4 separate regions of the Homo sapiens genome follow, and all the other regions are linked to region 3. Evidence: fine-mapped expression QTL. A gene starts in region 3. Each other region holds a variant in brackets. All regions are shown on one strand. Distances are from middle to middle. Region 1 overlaps ZNF276 (zinc finger protein 276). Region 2 overlaps DPEP1 (dipeptidase 1). Region 3 holds the start of CHMP1A (charged multivesicular body protein 1A). Region 4 overlaps DPEP1 (dipeptidase 1).

Region 1 (5,141 bases), 76 kb before region 3:
CCCAGGTTGAAGTGCAATGGTACAATCATGGCTCACTATAGCCTGGAACTCCCAGGCTTAAGTGATCCTCCTGCCTCAACCTCTCAAGTAGCTGGGACCACAGGTGTGCACCACCACACCCAGGTAATTTAAAAAATTTGGGGGGCCGGTGCAGTGGCTTACACAAAGTGCTCAATCCCAGCACTTTGGAAGGCCAAGGCAGGCGGATCATGAAGTCAGTTCAAGACCAGCCCCAGCCCAATCAATATGGTAAAACCCTGTCTCTACTAAAAATACAAAAATTAGCCAGGTGTGGTGGCACACACCTGTAGTCCCAGCTACTCGGGAGGCTGAGGCAGCAGAATTGCATGAACCCAGGAGGTGGAGGTTGCAGTGAGCTGAGATTGCACAGCTGCACTCCAGGCTGGGCGACACAGACTGTCCCGGAAAAAAAAAAAAAAATTGGGGGCTGGGCACGGTGGCTCATGCCTGTAATCCCAGCACTTTGGGAGGCCAAGGCAGGCAAATCACCTGAGGTCAGGAACTCGAGACCAGCCTGGCCAACATAGCAAAACCTGCCTCTCTACTAAAAATAGAAAAATTACCCAGGCGTCATGGCTCACGCTTATAATCCCAGCACTTCGGGAGGCCGAGGCAGGTGGATCACAAGGTCAGGAGATTGAGACCAGCCTCACTAACGTGGTGAAACCCCGTCTGTACTGAAAATACGAAAAATTAGTTGGGTGTGGTGGCCAGCACCTGTAGTCCCAGCTATTTGGGAGGCTGAGGCAGGAGAATGGCTTTACCCCAGGAAGAGGAGCTTGCAGTGAGCTGAGATTGTGCCACTGCACCCCAGCCTGGGCGACAAGAGCAAGACTCAGTCAAAAAAACAAACAAACAAACAAAAAAAAACACCCCCGGCGTGGTGGCAGATGCCTGTAATCCCAGCTACTCAGGAGGCTGAGACAGGAGAATTGCTTGAACTAGGGAGGTGGAGGTTACAGTGAGCCAAGATCGCGCCACTGCACTCCAGCCATGGTGATAAGAGTGAGACTGTTTCCATCAATAAATTAAAAAAAAAGTTTTTGGTAAAGACGGCCTCACTATGTTGCCCAGGCTGGTGTCAAAATCCTGGCCTCAAGCAATCCTACTGCCTTAGCCTCCAAAGTGCTGCGATTACAGGCATGAGCCACTGCACCCGGCCCAATTTCAGGTTTTTAAGGAACTGCTGGTTGTGACCATCAGTGACCGGACAGATGCAGAGTCTGAAGGACCAAACCCAAGGAAGTGCTGCCATCAGGAGAGATGTCGGAGAACCCAAAAAATAACAACCCGCATGTCGGGAGATGACCCAGCAGTGAAAAGCAATCCTAATGAAAAAATACTTCAGTAAATTCAAGTAAGAATAAATAATTCTTATTCTGTAATAAGTTCAAAACCAAGGAAAACTGTGTGTGTAAGGATCAATATACAGTTGTCCTCAGCTGGTTCCAGGCCCCCCCCCACCCCTTACCAAAATCTGCTCATACTGAAGTCCCGAAGTTAGCCCTGCAAAGACCCTACAGAACCTGCACTTAGGAAAAGGCAGCCCTCTGAATACCAGGGATTCGAGTCCCTGACCATGGATATGTGGGTCCACGTGGTTCAAACAAGTTTTTTTTTTGAGACAGTGTCTCACTGTTGCCCAGGCTGGAGTGCAGTGGTGTGATCTCGGCTCACTGCAACCTCCACCTCCGCCTCCCAAGTAGCTGTGCCTACAGGCGTGTGCCACCACACCCAGATAATTTTTGTATTTTTAGTAGAGACCAGGTTTTACCATGTTGGCCAGGCTGGTCTTGAACTGCTGACCTCAGGTGATCCACCCACCTCAGCCTCCCAAAGTGCTGGGATTACAGGTGTGAGCCACCACGCCCGGCCAAGTTTGTCATTTTGAAAACATATCCTTGTTGGATTATAAAAGTAACTTGTGCATTATAGAAATTGTGAAAAATAAGACGGGCACAGAGACAGCACCCTCAGTCATAATTCCCCCATCCGCCTCCGGTCTTAATGACACGACCTACACACATGTGAAAAGGCAGAACCACACGTGCCTCCCGCCTGTCCACGTGGGCAGCTCCCCAGAGCTGGTGTGCCTTCATGCCTTCTGCCTTGCCTTTTAAGATACACTTGTTTGGGCCAGGTGCAGTGCTCACACCTGTAATCTCTGCACTTTGGAAGGCTGAGATCACTTGAGGTCAGGAGTTAGAGATCACCCTGGCCAACATGGTGAAACCCCGTCTCTACCAAAAATTACAAAAATTAGCCAGGCATGGTTGCGGGTGCCTGTAATCCCAGCTACTTGGGAGGCTGAGGCGGGAGAATTGATTGAACCTGGGAGGCAGAGGTTGTGGTGAGCCAAGATGGTGCCACTGCACTCCAGCCTGGGCAACAGAGCAGGACTCCGTCTCAAAAAAAAATTAAAAAATAAAATGACCAATTTGCAAAAGGACACCAAGATTGCTTGGCTATTAGTTTTGACAAACTGCCTAGATCCTGGGGAAGTCAGGAATTCCTTCCATCACAGGGAAGGGCAGATTCACACTGACGCCCTACTCTAGCCTTCATCTACCAACGTGACTGAGTACCAAAGACCCCATGAGCCACCTTCACGCACCCCCAACTCTTGGGGCGGGGATGGGTATGAGGAAGACTGGAAAGCAGGTCACGTGCCCCTGGCTGTCACCCGCGTGGGCGACACTGG[C/T]GATAGGCGTACCTGTGTGGATGAGCTTCACGTGGCGCTGCAGGTAGCGGTCGATCATGAAAACCTTGTTGCAGCCAGGGTGGGGGCAGGGCCGCTCCCGGACCTCCTCGTGGTGCTCCTTGATGTGCTTCTGAAGGAGAGACTCGGTGAGAGACCCTCAGAGCCGCACCCGGGCCACATGGCACGAGCCCTCAGTAGGTGACAGCTGAGGCCCCTGGAAGGCAGATCCAACTCCTCCTCCAGCGACACCACTGGCTCCTTCACAGCTTCACTCCAAGAAACTTCTAGACCCCCCGGGGGGTGTCTCAAGTGAAAGTCTGGCCTCACATCTACCCCCAAGGATGGCACTGGCTAGGACTGCTTCAGGTCTCGGTTAACCTAGGTCAAAGTGTCCTTGGGCGCAAGTCTGAGTTAGGCTGCAGAAACACCTGCTACCTCCCCCAGGTTCACACTGACAGCTGCCGGGCCTGGGTCAGGCACAGCCAGTGCTCACCTTCATGCCGTCAGCGCCTCGGTACACGGCCGTGCAGCCCTGGTAAGGACACTTGTAGATGGTGGGAAGCTCCTCCCTGCAATGAAGAGCATGCATGGAGCCCCGGCCCCGACAGGCAGGGCGAGCCTCGCGTTGCAGGCATCACCTCTCACAACGAAGCTTCTTCTTCCATCCGGGCTTGGGTCCCGGCTTCTTCCGAATTCTTGGTTCTTCAGACTTCTTGGCTTCTTTGCTTTCACTCTTCTTACCAGAGACTCTGAAAAAAAGAGGTTCCCAAATTCAATGGTTTCTGATCTCCATTTGCAAAATGTTTTTTGTCTCTCCAACCTGAGAAATGGTCTTTTCTGAAGCTTCCCTGAGTTGCTTCTGTGCTGACTGACCCTCAGAATCTACCTGAAGCCACCAAAGCCAGAGCAACTCTGGACAGGAGGCCTCAGGGGCGAGCACAGCAGAGGGCAAGGGCGCAGGACACAGCAGGGTCAGGGGTGAACACAGCAGAGGGCGAGGGCGCAGGGTACAGCAGGGTCAGGGCAAACACAGCAGAGGGCGAGGGCGCAGGGTACAGCAGGGTCAGGGCGAACACAGCAGAGGGGGAGGGCACAGCAGAGGATGAGGGCGCAGGGTACAGCAGGGTCGGGGTGAACACAGCAGAGGGCGAGGGCGCAGGGTACAGCGGGGTACAGCAGGGTCAGGGCGAGCACAGCAGAGGGCAAGGGCGCAGGACACAGCAGGGTCAGGTGAACACAGCAGAGGGTGAGGGCGCAGGGTACAGCAGGGTCAGGGTGAACACAGCAGAGGGCGAGGGCATGGTACAGCAGGGTCAGGGGCAAACGGCAGAGGACGAGGGCGCAGGGTACAGCAGGGTCGGGTGAGCACAGCAGAGGGCGAGGACGCAGGGTACAGGAGGGTCAGGGCAAACACAGCGGAGGGCGAGGGCACAGGGTACAGCAGGGGTGGGTTCTGAGAACTAAAGCTTCACCCTGTGCTACACATAAAACCCACAACTAGAGGTATCAGGACGGCAGAACAGGGATGTCCAAAGGACCACTCCTTTATCAAAACGACCTTACGCTAGGAAAAAGCTCAGAATCCACTCTCTCAAAATGGGTCAGCTTGATTCCAAGCTCAAGCCACCCAGGCAGGGCTTCAGAGGAACAGGTGATGCTCCCTGGGAAGCACACGGTGAGTAGCTGCCACCCCAGCATTCCTCAACCCCGCCTCCACTGCAGGGAGCCCAGCCTGTGTTCCTGGAGCTGCTGGCTGGGACCATGGTGGGCAGGAGACCTTGTCCTCCAAAAGTCTGGGGTCGTGCATTTTAGTTGGTCTGGCAAGTCCCTGAGGGACCAGCAAATGCAGCAGCTTCCAGTGTGCGTCTATCGGAGACTTAAAGAGAGAGACGCACTTGTGGTTCCTTTCTGGATCCAGGTAAGAATAGTTAAGGAAATATCTCAAGAACAGAAAGGAACTTCTTCACCACGATAAAACCTCTACATGAAACCCACAGCAGACACCACGCTCAACTGTGAAGGACTGAAAGCTCTTCCTCCAAGGTCAGGAACAAGATACGGATTCTCTCACCACTGCTCTCAGGGCAGCACTGGAGGCCCTAGCCAGAGTAACTGGGCAAGAAAAAGAAAACAAAGACAAATTCTCCCTATTCACAAATGACACGACCTTCTACGTAGAAAACCCTAAAGATCCACATACAAAAAACCCTAATTAATTATTTCAGCAAAGTTGCAGGGCACAAAATCCATACACAAAACCCAGTTATGTTTCTATATATTATCAATGAACAATACATATGCAATAGCATGAAAAAAGTAGTTTACACTGCCGAGTCCAGTGGCTCATGTTGGCAGTCCCAGCACCCTGGGAGGCTGAGGTGAGAGGCTCACTTGAGCGCACAGGGCTGCAGTCAGCCAT
Region 2 (5,141 bases), 25 kb after region 3:
AAGGGGAAAGGAGAAGGAAGGGAAAGGGAAGGAAGGGGAAAGGAGAAGGAAGGGAAAGGAGAAGGAAGGGAAAGGAGAAGGAAGGGAAAGGAGAAGGAAGGGAAAGGAGAAGGAAGGGAAAGGAGAAGGAAGGGAAAGGAGAAGGAAGGGAAAGGGAAGGAAGGGGAAAGGAGAAGGAAGGGAAAGGAGAAGGAAGGGAAAGGAGAAGGAAGGGAAAGGAGAAGGAAGGGAAAGGAGAAGGAAGGGAAAGGAGAAGGAAGGGAAAGGGAAGGAAGGGGAAAGGGAAGGAAGGGAAAGGAGAAGGAAGGGAAAGGGAAGGAAGGGAAAGGAGAAGGAAGGGAAAGGAGAAGGAAGGGAAAGGAGAAGGAAGGGGAAAGGGAAGGAAGGGGAAAGGAGAAGGAAGGGAAAGGAGAAGGAAGGGAAAGGAGAAGGAAGGGAAAGGAGAAGGAAGGGGAAAGGAGAAGGAAGGGAAAGGGAAGGAAGGGAAAGGGAAGGAAGGGAAAGGAGAAGGAAGGGGAAAGGGAAGGAAGGGGAAAGGGAAGGAAGGGAAAGGGAAGGAAGGGAAAGGAGAAGGAAGGGGAAAGGAGAAGGAAGGGAAAGGAGAAGGAAGGGGAAAGGAGAAGGAAGGGAAAGGAGAAGGAAGGGGAAAGGAGAAGGAAGGGGAACGCAGAGGAAGGGGGAGCTGGGGCTGTCAGAGCTGGTGGCTGAGTGAGGATCCCAGAGGGTCCGAATCCAGCTGCCCAACAGGGCCTGGCAGAGACCAGGAGCAAAGGGAATCCACTGTCGTTAGGAATGCAATTCTCAGGCCAGGCAGGGTGGCTCATGCCTGTAATCCCAGCACTTTGGGAGGCCGAGGTGGGCAGATCACAAGGTCAGGAGATCGAGATCATCCTGGCTAACATGGTGAAACCCCGTCTCTACTAAAAATACAAAAATTAGCCGGGAGTGGTGGCGGGTGCCTGTAGTCCCAGCTACTCAAGAGGCTGAGGCAGGACAATGGCAGGAACCCAGGAGGCAGAGCTTGCAGTGAGCCGAGATCGCACCACTGCACTCCAGCCTGGGCGACAGAGCGAGACTCCCTCCAAAAAAAAAAAAAAAAGAAGAAGAGAAGAGAAAAGAAAAATAGAAATGCAGCTCTAAGGGGCCCAGGGCAGGCTCTAGGCTACGATCTCATCTGTGTTTCAACCAGGCTGTGAGGAGGATGGGAAGGGGCTGAGGCCTGACCCCCGACCCTGGGGAATGCCCAGGGTTCCCCTTCCCCGTCACTGGGTCTGGGGCCTCAGTCTCCTTCCTGTAATGTGGGCTGTGCCCCTGTCTCGGGGGGACTGCCTTGTGAGGGTGTGCGCTGGGATGAGGCCACAGGGGCCCCTCCACTTGCAGTTTCCAGACCCATCCCTGTGCCTCAGTTTCCCCATCTGTAACATGAGGGTGTCTTGGTGCCTTCCTTGGAGGACAGCTCCCTCTGTGTCTCAGTTTCCCCATCTGTAACATGAGGGTGTTTTGGTGCTCTCCTTGAGGACAGCTCCCTCTGTGTCTCAGTTTCCCCATCTGTAACATGAGGGTGTCTTGGTGCTTTCCTTGGAGGGCAGCTGGGAGAGGCAGATGAGTAACTGTTAATCATTTCCAGCTGCGGGCTCTGCTTTCTGTGACCCAGCTCAAATCTATGTGCCCGCAATGAGCTTTTCCAAGGCGAATGCACCCATGGAGCTCCTCAGGGGAAAGAAGGGGAGGGCTCTGCCCTTCCTGGGTCCCAGTCGTTCCTGACCTCCCCTGGGCTAGTGCCCCCAAGCCCAGCCTGGCACGCTTTCCGGCCCCACCCCTGGGCAGATGGGCGGGCGCACGCCTGATGCTGGTGTGAGTCTCTCCCAAAGCTCCTGCGTCAGCGAGGTTGTCCCTGGCCACAGCGAGTCCACATGACAGCCTGGGCTGGCACGGGCCTCTCCCCAGCCCTCGGAGCAGAGTGGGTGGTCAGGACGCACTTGCTGAGGGAACCATGAGCTCCAGCCAGGGACCCTGCCCGGGCAGCAGCCTCATCGCTAGGTGCAACCCTACACTGGGCACTGTCCTGGGTGGGGCTGGGCAGGGCTCCCAGGAGACTTTACTCCTTGGCCTGAGGACGCAGGCGGCCCATCTCAGACATTAGCCTGGGATGGGTAGGGATTCCTAGGACCCCAGGAGCCGCCCTTGGAGGGACAGGCTGCAATGGGGCAGCTCTCTGCTCTCCCCTCCCTCCTCCTCCTGCAGCCCCTCCTTTCTTTTTTCTTTTTGAGACAGGGTCTCACTCTGTTGCCCAGGCTGGAGGGCAGGGGTGCAATCACAGCTCACTGCAGCCCCCAACCTTCTGGGTTCAAGCAGTCCTCCCACCTCGGTCTCCCAAAGTGCTGGGACCACACCTGTGAGCCACTGTGCCCCGCCAGCCCTCTCCACTCTTGCTGGAGAAAACGATGGGAAGGTGGGGCCTCTGGTTTCTCAGTGGGAGGGAGGCCCTGCCTGCCTCATGGCCAGGGCAAATGGCAGTTCTGCTAATCAGACCCACCCTCCTTATCTGTGCAGCTGGGGCAATGCCCTTAGCTGGGATATGGAAGCCGGCGTCCTGCTCCAAGGAGTGCTGGAAAGTGCTGGAAAAGCGGCAAGCACACACTCAGGCAGCTGTTCGTGGGGAGACTGCTGGCTGCCCCCGGGATCCATTCTCCTCCTTTTCCTTTGTGACTTTAAAACCCCCCGTTTTTAGCGGGCACACAGCCATTTGGGTTGAAGATACTTCCTGCCCCTGTGTCGCTGGCGGTGGCCAAGGGATGAAGGTGG[G/A]TCCCGTAACAGCTTCTAACAACTGTGACCCCCGGCCGGGCGCGGTGGCTCACGCCTGGAATCCCAGCACTGTGGGAGGCCGAGGCGGGCGGATCACCTGAGGTCAGGAGTTCGAGACCAGCCTGGCCAACATGGTGAAACCCTGTCTCTACTAAAAATACCAAAAAAATTAGCCGGGCTTGGTGGCGGGCGCCTGTAATCCCAGCTACTCAGGAGGCTGAGGCAGGAGAATTGCTTAAATCCAGGAGGCAGAGGTTGCAGCGAGCTGAGATCACGCCACTGCACTCCAGCCTGGGTGACAGGTGACAGAGTGAGACTCTGTCTCAAAACAAAACAAAACAAAAACCTGACCCTGACAGTCACCTGCTGCTTGTCCTTTTTCCCTTCTTTATGTCTCCCTCCTCCCTGCTGGCCAGCATACAGATGTGAGGGCTGAAGCTGGCATGGCCATTTTAAACCATGAGGATGCAGGGACCACCCTCTGCTCCCTTTCTGCAGCTGCCTCTGCTCTCTTAAGTTTTTTTAATTTGAGATGGAGTCTCACTCTGTTGCCCAGGCTGAAGTACAGTGGCCCGATATTGGGTCACTCTAGCCTCCGCCTCCCGAGTTCAAGTGATTCTCCTGCCTCAGCCTCCTGAGTATCTGGGACTACAGGCATGCGCCACCATGCCTGGCTAATTTTTTGTATTTTTAGTAGAGACAGGGTTTCGCCATGTTGGCCAGGCTGGTCTTGAGCTCCTGACCTCAGGTGATCCGCCCGCCTCGGCCTCCCAAAGTGCTGGGATTACAGGCGTGAACTGCCCAGCCTGGACTGTTCCCTGAAGTTCTTATGCGACAAGACATCGGGTTTCCCTGCTTTTTTCACAGTTTTTCCCCAACAAAGCCCAGAGGCATTTTCCAGGTGGAGACACCATGCCAGACACAGGGCGGACTCTCAGTGACCCTCCCACCCCAACGCGGAGCCAGTGTGGACCCTGATCTGAGTCTGGTGCCTGGAAGCAGGAGGCCTCCATGGTGACCCAGTGTCGGGGCACTGGGCCAGGAAGGGGCGGGGAAGAGGGTCGGATTCCCGGGCAGTGGGGATCTCCGCCCTGAGGAGGTCAGGACAGAAGCAGGTGACCCAGGTGCCCCAGCGAGGTCGGGGGTGGGGGCCGGGTGGGCACACAGCGCAGCACAGGCAAGGGCCCAAGTGGCATGGGCCTCCCCCCGGGAGAAGGCAGGCCGGGGGGAGTGGGAAGAGAGCCAAAAAGATGCCGGCTGAGAGGGCCTGTAGGGTGCCACCCGCACCTGCTGCTTTTGGGAGAAGCTGAGGCACAGGGTGAGATTGGGGCGCAGGGCCTCCACGTCCGCAGGCTCAGACCTCACTCTGAGCTTCGGGACCAGGGAGTGTGGCCTTGCCTCCTTCCTGCCCAGTCCCTGCAGACCTTCATCCGCTGAAGTCTTTGGGGGCCCTGAGAGACCCCACAAAGCAGCAGGGGCCAGGAAAGGGCAAGGGCCCGGCACCGTCGCAGAAGCTGAAACTGAGCCCCAACCCAAGGGCACACGAGTCTCACCCCCAGAGAAACTGAGCCCCAAGCCAAGCACACACGAGTCTCACCCCCAGCTCCCCCAGCCCCAACTCCCCAGGCCAAACTCCCCCAGCCCCGGCACCCCCAGCCCCGGCACCCCCAGCCCCGGCTCCCCCAGCCCCGGCACCCCCAGCCCCGGCACCCCCAACCCCGGCTCCCCCAGCCCCGGCACCCCCAGCCCCGGCACCCCCAGCCCTGGCTCCCCCAGCCCCGCTCCCCCAGCCCCGGCTCCCCCAGCCCCGCTCTCCCAGCCCCAGTTCCCAGTCCTGGTTCCCTAAGCACCTGGCTCAGGTGAGCACTCACCCATCAATGACAGGGGAGTCCCTCATGATCCTCTCTGCCTCGTCCCGAAAGAAGTCTGCAGTGCAGACGGCCACAAGGGGCCACAGCCACCATCCGCTCCACATGGTGGGGTCCCCGGGGACCTGTGTGCACTGCTGCCCTGGTGCCTCTGTGCTGGCCTGGCTGGCCCGTGCAGAAGGATGAGCTTCAGGCTGTGAGGAGCCACTCTGCCTGCCAGGAGAGGCACCAGAGGTGTGGGTGGAAGTGATGACAGGTGGCTGCTCTCCTGTTTATAGCTTCCCATGTTCAATAAGTAACCAGCACATTCCCCACCAGGGTGGGTAGGATGGAAGGCCGGACACTCAATGACTGGGCGTTGCTGTCTGGGCTAGGCGGAGGCATAGTAAGAAGCTGGGATCCCAGACCCAGGGGTGGAGCTAGAGCCCAGATGAAAGGACAGCAGGCTGAGAGCAGGCCCAGATGAGT
Region 3 (5,140 bases):
TTTGCACCATTGAATGAGTCCTGCAGAGGCTGGGCAGGCGAAGCCTTCCTGGGAAAGGTTTCCTTGCTAATATGAAGCAAGGAGCAATGCCTTTGCAGTAGATGCAGTCCTGCCTGCGTGTGGGGGGCTGTACACTCATCGGGGGCTGTGGACACTGAGAGTGGTCAAGAAGAGACACGCAAAGTCTTTGATGTCACTGTTGTGCTAACAAGCCAACCTGGAAGCTCCACCTCTGACCCTTCATTCGTGAGACATTAAATCCCTGTGTTAAAGCTGCGTTTAGTGAGCTTTTCTGTAACTTTCAGCTAAAAGCACCGTGACAGACAGGTAGCATTTTCCAAACTGCCACCCAAGGGTGATGCTATTCCTGCAGGGTTCCATCCTCCGGTGGGGGGTTGCGCCCTCCTGTGAGGGGTTCCACCCTCCAGTGGGAGGTTCCAAAGTTGGGAATTCAAATCCAAGTCTTTCTTCCAAGTCCAAGGCCCAGAGCCTCCTACTTTCAGCCCTTGATCCTACAAGCGTGTCAGTGTGAAGCAGTCCAGGCCCAGCTCCTCTGCCTAGCAGGCCAGTCATCCCCCTGACATTCTTTCTTGTCTGACCCGAGTGGTTCTCTCCTTATTATTTTTTTTTTTTTCTGAGACAGAGTCTCACTCTGTAGCCCAGGCTGGAGTGCAGTGGTGCGATCTCGCTCACCACTACTTCTGCCTCCCGGGTCCCGGTTCAAGGTTCGAGCAATTCTCCTGCCTCAGCCTCCTGAGTAGCTGGGATTACAGGCACATGCCACCACGCCCAGCTAATTTTTGTATTTTTAGTAGAGACAGGGTTTCACCACGTTGGCCAGGCTGGTCTTGAACTCCTGACCTTAAGTGATCCACACGCCTCGGCCTCCCAAAGTGCTGGGATTACAGGCGTGAGCCACTGCGCCCAGCCGAGTGGTTCATTCTTGTGATGAAACTTAAAACACCTCCTCCTGGCACAGGCCCCCAATCTCCTCGGACGGCAGGCTCTGCGGGTTCTCCCTGCCTGACCCTTCTGCAATTCCTACTGCAAGGCCTTGCTGGCTCCCACTGGGCCACAGCAATGGGTCTCTGACCGGGCCACCTCCCCTGCGAACTGGCTTCCCCTGTTGGTAGGCACAGACCTCATCATGCCGCCCTTGTTTTTTATTTTTAAATATTTATTTTTTGTAGAGACAGGGTCTCACTATGTTGCCCAAGCTGGTCTTGAACTCCTGGGCTCAAAAGATCCTCCTGCCTCGGCCAAATAACTGGGAGGACAGGTGTGAACTACCGCCCCAGGCAGCACCTCCGTTGTTTAAAATATTTAACGCTTCCAGCTCCACGTGGTAAAACTGATGGAAAACTTTGTATTCTAGCTTCTTCCTACTTTTGGGGCCTCATCTTCCCCACACACACCCAAAGGTCTGGCCACACTAGGCTGTTATAAAAGACACCTTTGTCGCACCCAGGTTCTACTCCTCGGTCACCCTCCGCAATGTACTTATCCCCACAGCCCTCGGAGAGCTACAGTCCAGCCTGGGACGGCCTCCCAATGCTCTGTTCCAGTGTGCGGAGGCTCAGGGATTCTCAGTGGCACCAAGATACCCAGCCCTCGAGGAGAACCTCAGGTGAGACACACGCACACTGCCCCAGCCCCTCGACCACCTGGTACGCACTTATCACTCGGGAACTGACCTACATTTTCATTAAACTTATGTTTTCAACTAAGATTTCTGGATATTTACCTCCTACATAAAGTTCCCAAAACAAACCAGTTTCATCTTTACGGCGCGTGCCTGCTACTAGTGTCCATCCGGTAGGGTCTTACAGTAGGCTCCTCACCCCAGCCCCAGATCCTCCAAGCCACTGACCTCGCTTCGCTCCCTCCCGCCGTCTCCTACCTTCCAGCGAAGCTGCCGGCGGCGGGTGCTTGGCTGTCCCGGCCCCCGGGTGGAGGCTGTCCACAGGCTTCTCCGACTCCCTGTCTGCCTGCCTGGCTTCCTGGGAATGCTTCTCCATCAACTTCTCCTTAGATTTTGGAACTGAATAGGTGGATCCCTTCTTTTGCTCCTCACCTGAAATATATGGATCATCCGTTAGACCCGGGACTTACCGAATGCAGGGCAGTGGGTCCCATCGTCTTCAGTCGCCTGCGTGGGTCCAGAATAAGCTGGCTTCAAGTCTCGAGTCTCCGCGTTTCCGTAACCGCCTCAGGCGGGAAACGCGCCGTCCGTGGCGGACTCGGCGGCAGGAACGGTTCGCACCGGGCCGAGCCTGGCGCCTGCGCTCACACCGCCCCGCCCAGCCCAGCCCCGCCCTGGGCCCGCGCCCAGGGGCGGAGACGCGGGGAGCCCAGCGCCTGCGCCTCCTTTACCTTTCCTGGGTTTCTCTTTGCTTTTGGAAAGGCCCATGGGTGAGCCCACCGCCCCCTCCGACGCAAGCCCGGGTCCCCACACCTCCGCGGCCGCGGAGCCGGGAGCGACTCACAAAAGGTCCTCGCGCCAGCGGCGTGCGTCACCATGGCGACCGCGCGCCGCGCAGCCGCGCCCCGCCCCTCTGGCGGGACCGGCCACCATCCTCTCGCGAGAGCATCCCGTGCGACCGGAAGTGGGGCGGCGACCCCGGAAGTCCCCGCCGGGTGCAGCTTGGTCGGTTCGATCGCCGCCGGGACCTGACACCGCCCGGAGTTGGCGTCCCTTCTCCCTCTCCGAGTGCTGCTCCTGTCATTGTGGCCATGGACGGTAAGAGGTCGCGGCCGTCCTCCGGGGACTCGCGCGCGGGGCGGGGCCGCTTCTCCCACTGGCGTGGGCTCCGCCCACCTGGGGCCGCGGGCAGGACTCAGGAGAGCTCGGGCCTCGACCGTCGATCCCCCGGGACCCCATCCCCAGGGCCTCGACCACCGACCTGGGACCCCTTTTCCCGGTCGTCGTCCCCCGATCCCCGACCCGGACCCCATCCCCAGGGCCTCGACCACCGACCTGGGACCCCTTTTCCCGAGCCTCGTCCCCCGATACCCGACCCGGAACCCCTTCCCCAGGGCCTAGACCACCAACCCGGGACCCCTTTTCCCGGGCCTCGACCCTCGATCCCCGACCCGGAACCCCTTCCCCAGGGCCTCTACCACCGACCCGGGACCCCTTCTCCCGGGCCTCGACCCCCGACCACCGACCGGGACCCTTCCCAGGCCCCCGACCCCCAACCCGAGATCCTTTACCCCGGGCCTCGACCCTCGACCCGGGACCCCTCCCCCCAGGCCTCGATCCCCGACCCCCGATTCGGGACCCCTTCCCCGGGGCCTCCATCCCCAAATCTCAACCCGGTATGCCTTCCCCGGGGCCTCGACCTCTGACCCCCAACCATGGACCCGGGACCTAGACTCCCGACCCAGGACCCCTTGCCCAGGGCCTGGACCCCCGACCACCGACCCAGGACCCTTTCCCCCGCCCCTGGCACTCCTCAGCGTCAGGCGCCCTTTCCCGCCAGCTCGGTAGGGGGGACTGTGCGATGCCTGTTCGGCCTTTCGGGACTTGGAATGTCGGGTCAGAGGGCACCAGAAAAAGTGACAGTTGCACCCCCTGCCCCAAACAGCATCACTGCAAATCAGAAGGACTCAGACAGAAAGCGCTCCCTGAGTGCCAGGCCCTGGTCACAGCAGCTCTTTGCGTCCATTCTCCATGTGGGGAAGCAGAGGTTTGAGCAGGAGCCAGCACAAGCGTTTCTGTGCTCAATGGGTCGCCCTAATTCTTACCTTCTACATCTGGGGCTAGCCGGCTGTGTGCTCAGGGATACCAAAGAACAGGAAGAATCTGGCAAAATGAAGTCCTATGTTTGCTGAAACATCGTTGGGCTGGTGTGATGGGCAGGCTTTTAAAAATACTTTTTGAAGGGCTGGGCGCGGTGGCTCACGCCTGTAATCCCAGCACTTTGGGAGGCCGAGGCCGGCGGATCGCAAGGTCAGGAGATCGAGACCATCCTGGCTAACACAGTGAAACCCCATCTCTACTAGAAATACAAAAATATTAGCCAGGCGTGGTGGCGGGTGCCTGTAGTCCCAGCTACTCGGGAGGCTGAGGCAGGAGAATGGCGTGAACCCGGGAGGCGGAGCTTGCAGTGAGCCGAGATCGCGCCACTTCACTCCAGCCTGGGCGACAGAGCGAGACTCCGTCTCAAAAAAAATTCTTTTAGTTAGAAGTGTGAAAAGCTATAGTACCACCGTGTCATCATCATGAAGGAAATGTGTAGAGATTTTCTGCCCTGAGAGAAGATGAAAGATAACATCTACCTCCCGCCACAAAAAATATGCTGGCCAGGCCGGGTGTGGTGGCTCAGGCCTGTAACCCCAGCACTCTGGGAGGCCGGGCGCGGTGGCTCACGGCTGTAATTCCAGCACTTTGGGAGGCCGGATGTGGTGGCTCACGCCTGTAACCCCAACACTTTGGGAGGCCGAGGTTGGTTGATCACCTGAGGTCAGGAGTTTGAGACCAGCCTGGCCAACATGGTGAAACCCCGTCTCTTCTAAAAATACAAAAATTAGCTGGGCCTGGTGGCGTGCACGTGTAATTCTAACTACTTGGGAGGCTGAGACAGGAGAATCGCTTAAACCTGGGAGGCAGAGGTTGCAGTGAGCCAAGATGGTGCCGTTGCACTCTAGCCTGGGTGATAGAGTGAGACTCCGTCTCAAAAAAAAAAAAGAAAAATTGTGGCTTTTCACTCCACAGCTCACTCAACTCTTTTGAGGGGACTTCTCTCAAGCCCATGTCAGATTTCCTCAGAGTCAGATTTTGCCTTAGCTGGGTTTTTGTGCTGCCACACACGGCTGGAAGAGAAAGCTGAGGTGAGGAAAGCTGAGGTGAGGGAAAGCTGAGGTGAGGAAAGCTGAGGTGAGGAGAGCTGAGGTGAGGGAAAGCTGAGGTGAGGGAAAGCTGAGGTGAGGGAAAGCTGAGGTGAGGGAAAGCTGAGATGAGGAGGGCGGTTTGGCCAGCATCCCACAGTGAGTTGGGTGGGACGGCCCGCCTGGCCTGCACTGTGCCATCTGGGTCAGGCTGGCTGTTTTCCAGTCACAGATAACCTTGGCCGTGACCACACCTGAACTGATAGATGACAGGTTGAACTTGGCCTTGACCACGCCTGCACTGACAGGC
Region 4 (5,141 bases), 32 kb after region 3:
ACCCTTTGGGGGCTGGGCAAGGTGGCTCACACCTGTAATCCCAGCACTGTGGGAGGCTGAGGCGGGCGGATCACCTGAGGTCAGGAGTTCGAGATCAGCCTGGGCAACATGGTGAAACCCCGTCTCTACTAAAAATACAAAAATTAGCCAGGCATGGTGGTGCATGCCTGTAATCCCAGCTACTCGGGAGGCTGAGGCAGGAGAATCGCTTGAATCCGGGAGGTGGAGGATGCCATGAGCTGTGATCGCGCCATTGCACTCCAGCCTGGGCGACAAGAGTAAATCTCTATCTCACAAAAAAAAAAAAAAAAGAAAGAAAAGAAAGAAAGAAAGAAATACCTTTTGTGGCCGGGTGTGGTGGCTCACGCCTGTAATCCCAGCACTGTGGGAGGCCGAGGCGGGTGGATCACCAGGTCAGGAGATCGAGACCATCCTGGCTAACATGGTGAAACCCCGTCTCTACCAAAAATAAAAAAAATTAGCCGGGCATGGTGGCGGGTGCCTGGAGTCCCAGCTACTTGGGAGGCTGAGGCAGGAGAATGGCATGAACCCGGGAGGCAGAGCTTGCAGTGAGCCGAGATTGCACCACTGCACTCCCGCCTGGGCGAAAGAGCGAGACTCCGTCTCAAAAACAAACAAAAATACCCTTTGGGAGGCCAAGGCAGGAGGATCACGAGGTTAGGAGTTTGAGACCAGCCTGACCAACATGGTGAAACCCCTTCTCTACTAAAAATACAAAAATTTACTGGGCATGGTGGCCCTTGCCCGTAATCCCAGCTACTTGGAGGCTTTTGGAGGAGAATCACTTGAACCAGGGAGGCGGAGGTTGCAGTGAGCCGAGATTGCAACACTGTACTCCAGCCTGGGTGGCAGAGCAAGACTCCGTTTCAAAAAAAAAAAAAAAAAAAAAAAAAAAGAAGAAATATCCAAGACTGGGTTCCCCTGCCCTTCCTTTCCCTCTTCTCCCCTCCCCTCCTTCCTCTCTCTCTCTCTGAGACAGAGTCTCAGTAGGTCACCCAGGCTGGAGTGCGGTGGCACAATCTCGGCTCACGGCAACCTCTGCCTCAACTGATTCTCATGCCTCGGCCTCCGGAGTAGCTGGGATTACAGGCGCACACCACACCCAGCTAATTTTTTTTGTATTTTTAGTAGAGACAGGGTTTCATCATGTTGGTCAGGCTGGTCTTGAACTCCTGACCTAAAATAATGTGCCCTCCTCGGCCTCCCACAGTGCTGGGATTACAGGTGTGAGCCACCATGCCTGATCCCACATCTGACTTTTTTTTTTTTTTTTTGAGACGGAGTCTCACTCTATTGCCCAGGCTGGAGTGCAGTGGCGCAACCTCAGCTCACTGCAAGCTCTGCCTCCCGGGTTCATGCCATTCTCCTGCCTCAGTCTCCAGAGAAGCTGGGACTACAGGCGCCCGCCACCACGCCCGGCTAATTTTTTTCTTTTTTTTCTTTTTTTTTAGTAGAGACAAGTTTTCACCGTTTTAGCCAGGATGGTCTCGATCTCCTGACCTCGTGATCCGCCCGCCTCGGCCTCCCAAAGTGTTGGGATTACAGGTGTGAGCCACCATACCTGGCCCCACGTCTGACTAATTTTTTATTTTTACTACAGACAGTTTCACCATGTTGGCCAGGGTGGTCTCAAACTCCTGACCCCAAGTGATCCACCCGCCTCGGCCTCCCAAGCTGTTGGGATTACAGGCATGAGCCACCGCGCCTGGCCAAGACTGGGTAATTTTTAAAGGAAAAAAGCCTTCATTGACTCACAGTTCCACATGGCTGGGGAGGCCTCAGGAAAATTACAATCATGGCCGAAGGCAAAGGGAGGCAAGGCATGTCTTAAATGGCAGCGGGGGAGAGAGTTTGAGGGGGGGACTGCCAAACACTTTTAAAAACCAGATCTTAGGCTGGGTGCGGTGGCGCACGCCACC[G/A]CGTGATCCAAGCACTTTGGGAGGCCGAGGCGGGTGGATCACCTGAGGTCCGGAGTTCGAGACCAGCCTGACCAACATGGAGAAACCCCATCTCTACTAATAATACAAAATTAGCCAGGCGCGGTGGCTCATACCTGTAATCCCAGCTACTCGGGAGGCTGAGGCAGGAGAATTGCTTGAACCCGGGAGGTGGAGGTTGCGGGGAGCCAAGATTGTGCCACTGCACTCCAGCCAGCTTGGGCAACAAGAGTGAAACTCCGTCTTAAAAACCACCACCACCAACAAAAACAACAACAAACAGATCTTGTGAGAACTTTCTCGCTACCACGAGAACATGGGGTGAATGGCCCCACGATGCACTCACCTCCAGCGGGTCTCTCCCTTGACAGGTGGGGATTATAATCTGAGATGAGATTTGGGTGGGGACACAGAACCAAACCGCATCACTCAGCTCCACCATTCAGTGCCCAGTGCAACATGAAAATGCGGCACCCTTATTCACACATCGCAAGAATCTCAGGGCCTCTCAGGGCCTCACAGTGGCGGGAGGACGGGGGGCAGGTAGAGGGAGGCACATGTCTTCCGAGCACCAGACCGGGGCCGAAAGCCACGCGTGGACTGCATTTTGCACCGTTTCTGAGGCTCAAAGCCACGGACTTAATTCAACACGAGGGCGTCCTGGGGGTTGGGCAGGGCCCCGTGTCCTGGTAGGCTGTGGGTTCCCCTCTCACGACCACTGTTCAAGGGCAGCGTGGGTGAGCTGGTTCAATTTCTCGGCCTCAGTCTCTTCGTCTGTCAAGTAGAAGTCATGGATGTACCTACTTTACGACAGTCCTGCTGTGAGCACAAAGGTACCAGCCACTCAGATCACCCTCGGATCAAGGTAGTCACCTTACACCTGTCTTTTCCGTGGGGTTTTATAGTTTGTCCCAGAGTTTCCAGTTGCCTTTCTTCTCCTGCCCTACACTGGGTGCCCTTATCTTCCATCTTCCAAGCTCTGGACTCTGCAACCTCCCTCCCTGCCCCCAGAGCCTCCCCTCGTCCAACCTGCTACTCCCAGCCTGGAATGTCAGTGCTCACTTAATGCCTGCACTGAAGGTCTTCCACCTTTGTTTGGTTTATAGTCCTGATAGAGTTTGAATGTTTGTCCAGATCTCACGTGGAAACTGGATCCCAGTTGGGAGGTTTTGTGTCATGGGGACGGGCCCCTCATCAATGGCTTGGTGCAGTTCTGGAGGTAATGAGTTCGTTGGGAAGAGAACTGACGGTTAAAACGAGCCTGGTACCTCCCCCCTCACTCTCTGCCTCCCTCTCTGCACGTGATGCCCTGGGAGCAGGAGAATAGGGTCTGGGGGCAGGGAACTTAGGCCAATTCGTGCTGAATCAAGGAAAAACAGCGAGGCCTGGGGCAGGGAATGGGACGCTAATTTGTGCTGACTTCCTAAAAGAGAAAACACCAAGGTCAGGGGGAGAGAGTCCGAGGCCAAAGCACGCTGAATCCAGGAAAAACTTCAAGGTCTGGGGCAGGGAACCCAGGGCCAATTAACACCAACTTCCAAAAACTACACCCTGAGGAAGAGCCCCACGCCCAGTAGCAAAGGATCAAAGGCTGCTCTCGTACAGCCCCCACCACCATGTCCCAGATGGAAAGGAAAGTGCTGTGGACTGGCTGCGGGCCACCCTTTCATCTGCAGACACCAGTTTACCTCAGCCTTTGATTAGCCACGGACCAAATCTTTCATCCAGATAAGAGGTATAGGAACCATGAAAGGTGCCCTTAAGACCCAGAAAACTGGCCGAGGGGGTGGCTCACACCTGTCATCCCAGCACTTTGGGAGAGTGCGGCGGGTGTATCACCTGAGGCCGGGAGTTCAAGACCAGCCTGGCCAACAAAGAAAAACCCCGTCTCAACTAAAAACACAAAAATTAGCCGGGCGTGGTTGCGGGCGCCTGTCATCCCAGCTACTCCGGAGGCTGAGGCTGGAGAATCGCTTGAACCTGGGAGGCAGAGGTTGCAGTGAGCCGAGATGGCGCCACTGCACTCCAGCCCGGGCGACGGTGTGAGACTCCCTCTCAAAACAAAAAAAAAACAAACCCCAGAAAACTATGTAACAGCGCCCCTCTCACCCCACTCCCGACCTTTCTCGCTTTAATAAATCCCTGCTTTCGCTGCTTTCTTTCCGTGTTTTGTTCGTTACTTTGCACGTTTTGTCCACTTCTTTGTTCAAACGCCGAGGACATGGACTATTACGGTCCAGGCCATCCTTCCAGTGACACCTGCTCCCTCCCCTTCTGCCGTGATGAGAGGTTCCCTGGGGTCCTCACCAAAGGCAGACGCTGGTGCCACGCTTCCCATTCAGCCTCCACAACCATGAGCCAAACCCACCCCTTTTCTCTATAGATGACCCAGCCTCGGGGATTTCTTTGGAGCAATGCAAAGCAGACTAAACCCTATTCCATTAGAGTTGGCCCTGCAACCATTCCCTAGCAGCGGGTCGGCAGGAATTCACTCCCCAGTCCTCCTGTCTGTCTTTATTCTGCCCTCATCAGTAGTTTCTCTGGATGTGCACTTTGGGCGGGAAACCTTTGTCCCTCAGGAGGTGACCGCACCACAGTCCGTCTGTGCATGTGTGGTGGATGGGCCCGGCTGTGTGTGGGCAACCGCTGTTCCCTCCAGGCCTGGAGCTGCCTCTTTCCTCGGAGCGCCACGACTTCTCAGCCACGTGCTTTAGTGTGAGGCTTTTTCACTCCCTGGAGCGTTTCCTCTGCCTCCGGTCCAGGGAATTTCCAGTCGCCCGTATCCCTCTTCTTCCCCTCCTTTCTGAGCTCCGTCTGGCCAGGGTTTCAGGCAGGGGTTGCACTGTCTGAGCTTCCTTTCTGCCTCCTGTCCTGGCTTTCTTCCTGCTTATCCTGTGCACTCCATTTCCTCTGTTTTGTCTCCCAGCACGGTTCTTTCGTGTTTTCTTGGGGGTTGTGCGTCTGGTCTCCGGAGGGCGGTTTCCAAGGTTTGCTGTGTTCTTTTCCGCCCCGCTCCCGTCAGGGAAGCAGATCTGCTTGGACTCAGCTACACTCTGTTCTCTTCTGAGGTTTACCAAACGGAATGCAGACGCGTCTCCCATTGTTCATCTGGACCTTCTGTTGGGTTTGCAGACTTCCCTTGGCAGCGGGCAATCTTTGTCACTACAAATTTCATATTTAAAA

Evidence for each region. PIP is the estimated chance that this variant, and not a neighbour inherited with it, causes the effect.
Region 1: its variant is the best candidate, but not a certain one, in a credible set for the expression of CHMP1A in whole blood (INTERVAL, PIP 0.56).
Region 2: its variant is the best candidate, but not a certain one, in a credible set for the expression of CHMP1A in skeletal muscle (GTEx, PIP 0.85).
Region 4: its variant is the best candidate, but not a certain one, in a credible set for the expression of CHMP1A in whole blood (INTERVAL, PIP 0.68).

Annotation. Positions count from the first base shown.
Region 1 is chr16:89,731,632-89,736,772 of GRCh38, reverse strand. It overlaps ZNF276 (zinc finger protein 276), which reads right to left. Exons shown (of 11, transcript NM_001113525.2): 7 at 3,361-3,471; 8 at 3,216-3,291; 9 at 2,735-2,852. Among named protein-coding and RNA genes, the nearest start is that of ZNF276, 13 kb to the right of the region's middle. The variant C/T (reference allele first, on the strand shown) is at 2,723.
Region 2 is chr16:89,630,050-89,635,190 of GRCh38, reverse strand. It overlaps DPEP1 (dipeptidase 1), which reads right to left. Exons shown (of 11, transcript NM_001389466.1): 2 at 4,677-4,886. The coding sequence starts at 4,780. Among named protein-coding and RNA genes, the nearest start is that of DPEP1, 19 kb to the right of the region's middle. RefSeq lists an enhancer at 2,275-3,129. The variant G/A (reference allele first, on the strand shown) is at 2,806.
Region 3 is chr16:89,655,182-89,660,321 of GRCh38, reverse strand. It overlaps CHMP1A (charged multivesicular body protein 1A), which reads left to right and starts at 2,614. Exons shown (of 7, transcript NM_002768.5): 1 at 2,614-2,740. The coding sequence starts at 2,734. It overlaps SPATA33 (spermatogenesis associated 33), which reads right to left and starts at 2,486. Exons shown (of 3, transcript NM_001271907.2): 1 at 2,374-2,486; 2 at 1,901-2,074. The coding sequence starts at 2,410. RefSeq lists an enhancer at 2,333-2,502 and silencers at 2,218-2,607, 2,828-2,887.
Region 4 is chr16:89,623,427-89,628,567 of GRCh38, reverse strand. The region is part of intron 1 of DPEP1 (dipeptidase 1); the gene reads right to left. Among named protein-coding and RNA genes, the nearest start is that of DPEP1, 12 kb to the right of the region's middle. RefSeq lists enhancers at 1-154, 4,204-5,076. The variant G/A (reference allele first, on the strand shown) is at 1,941.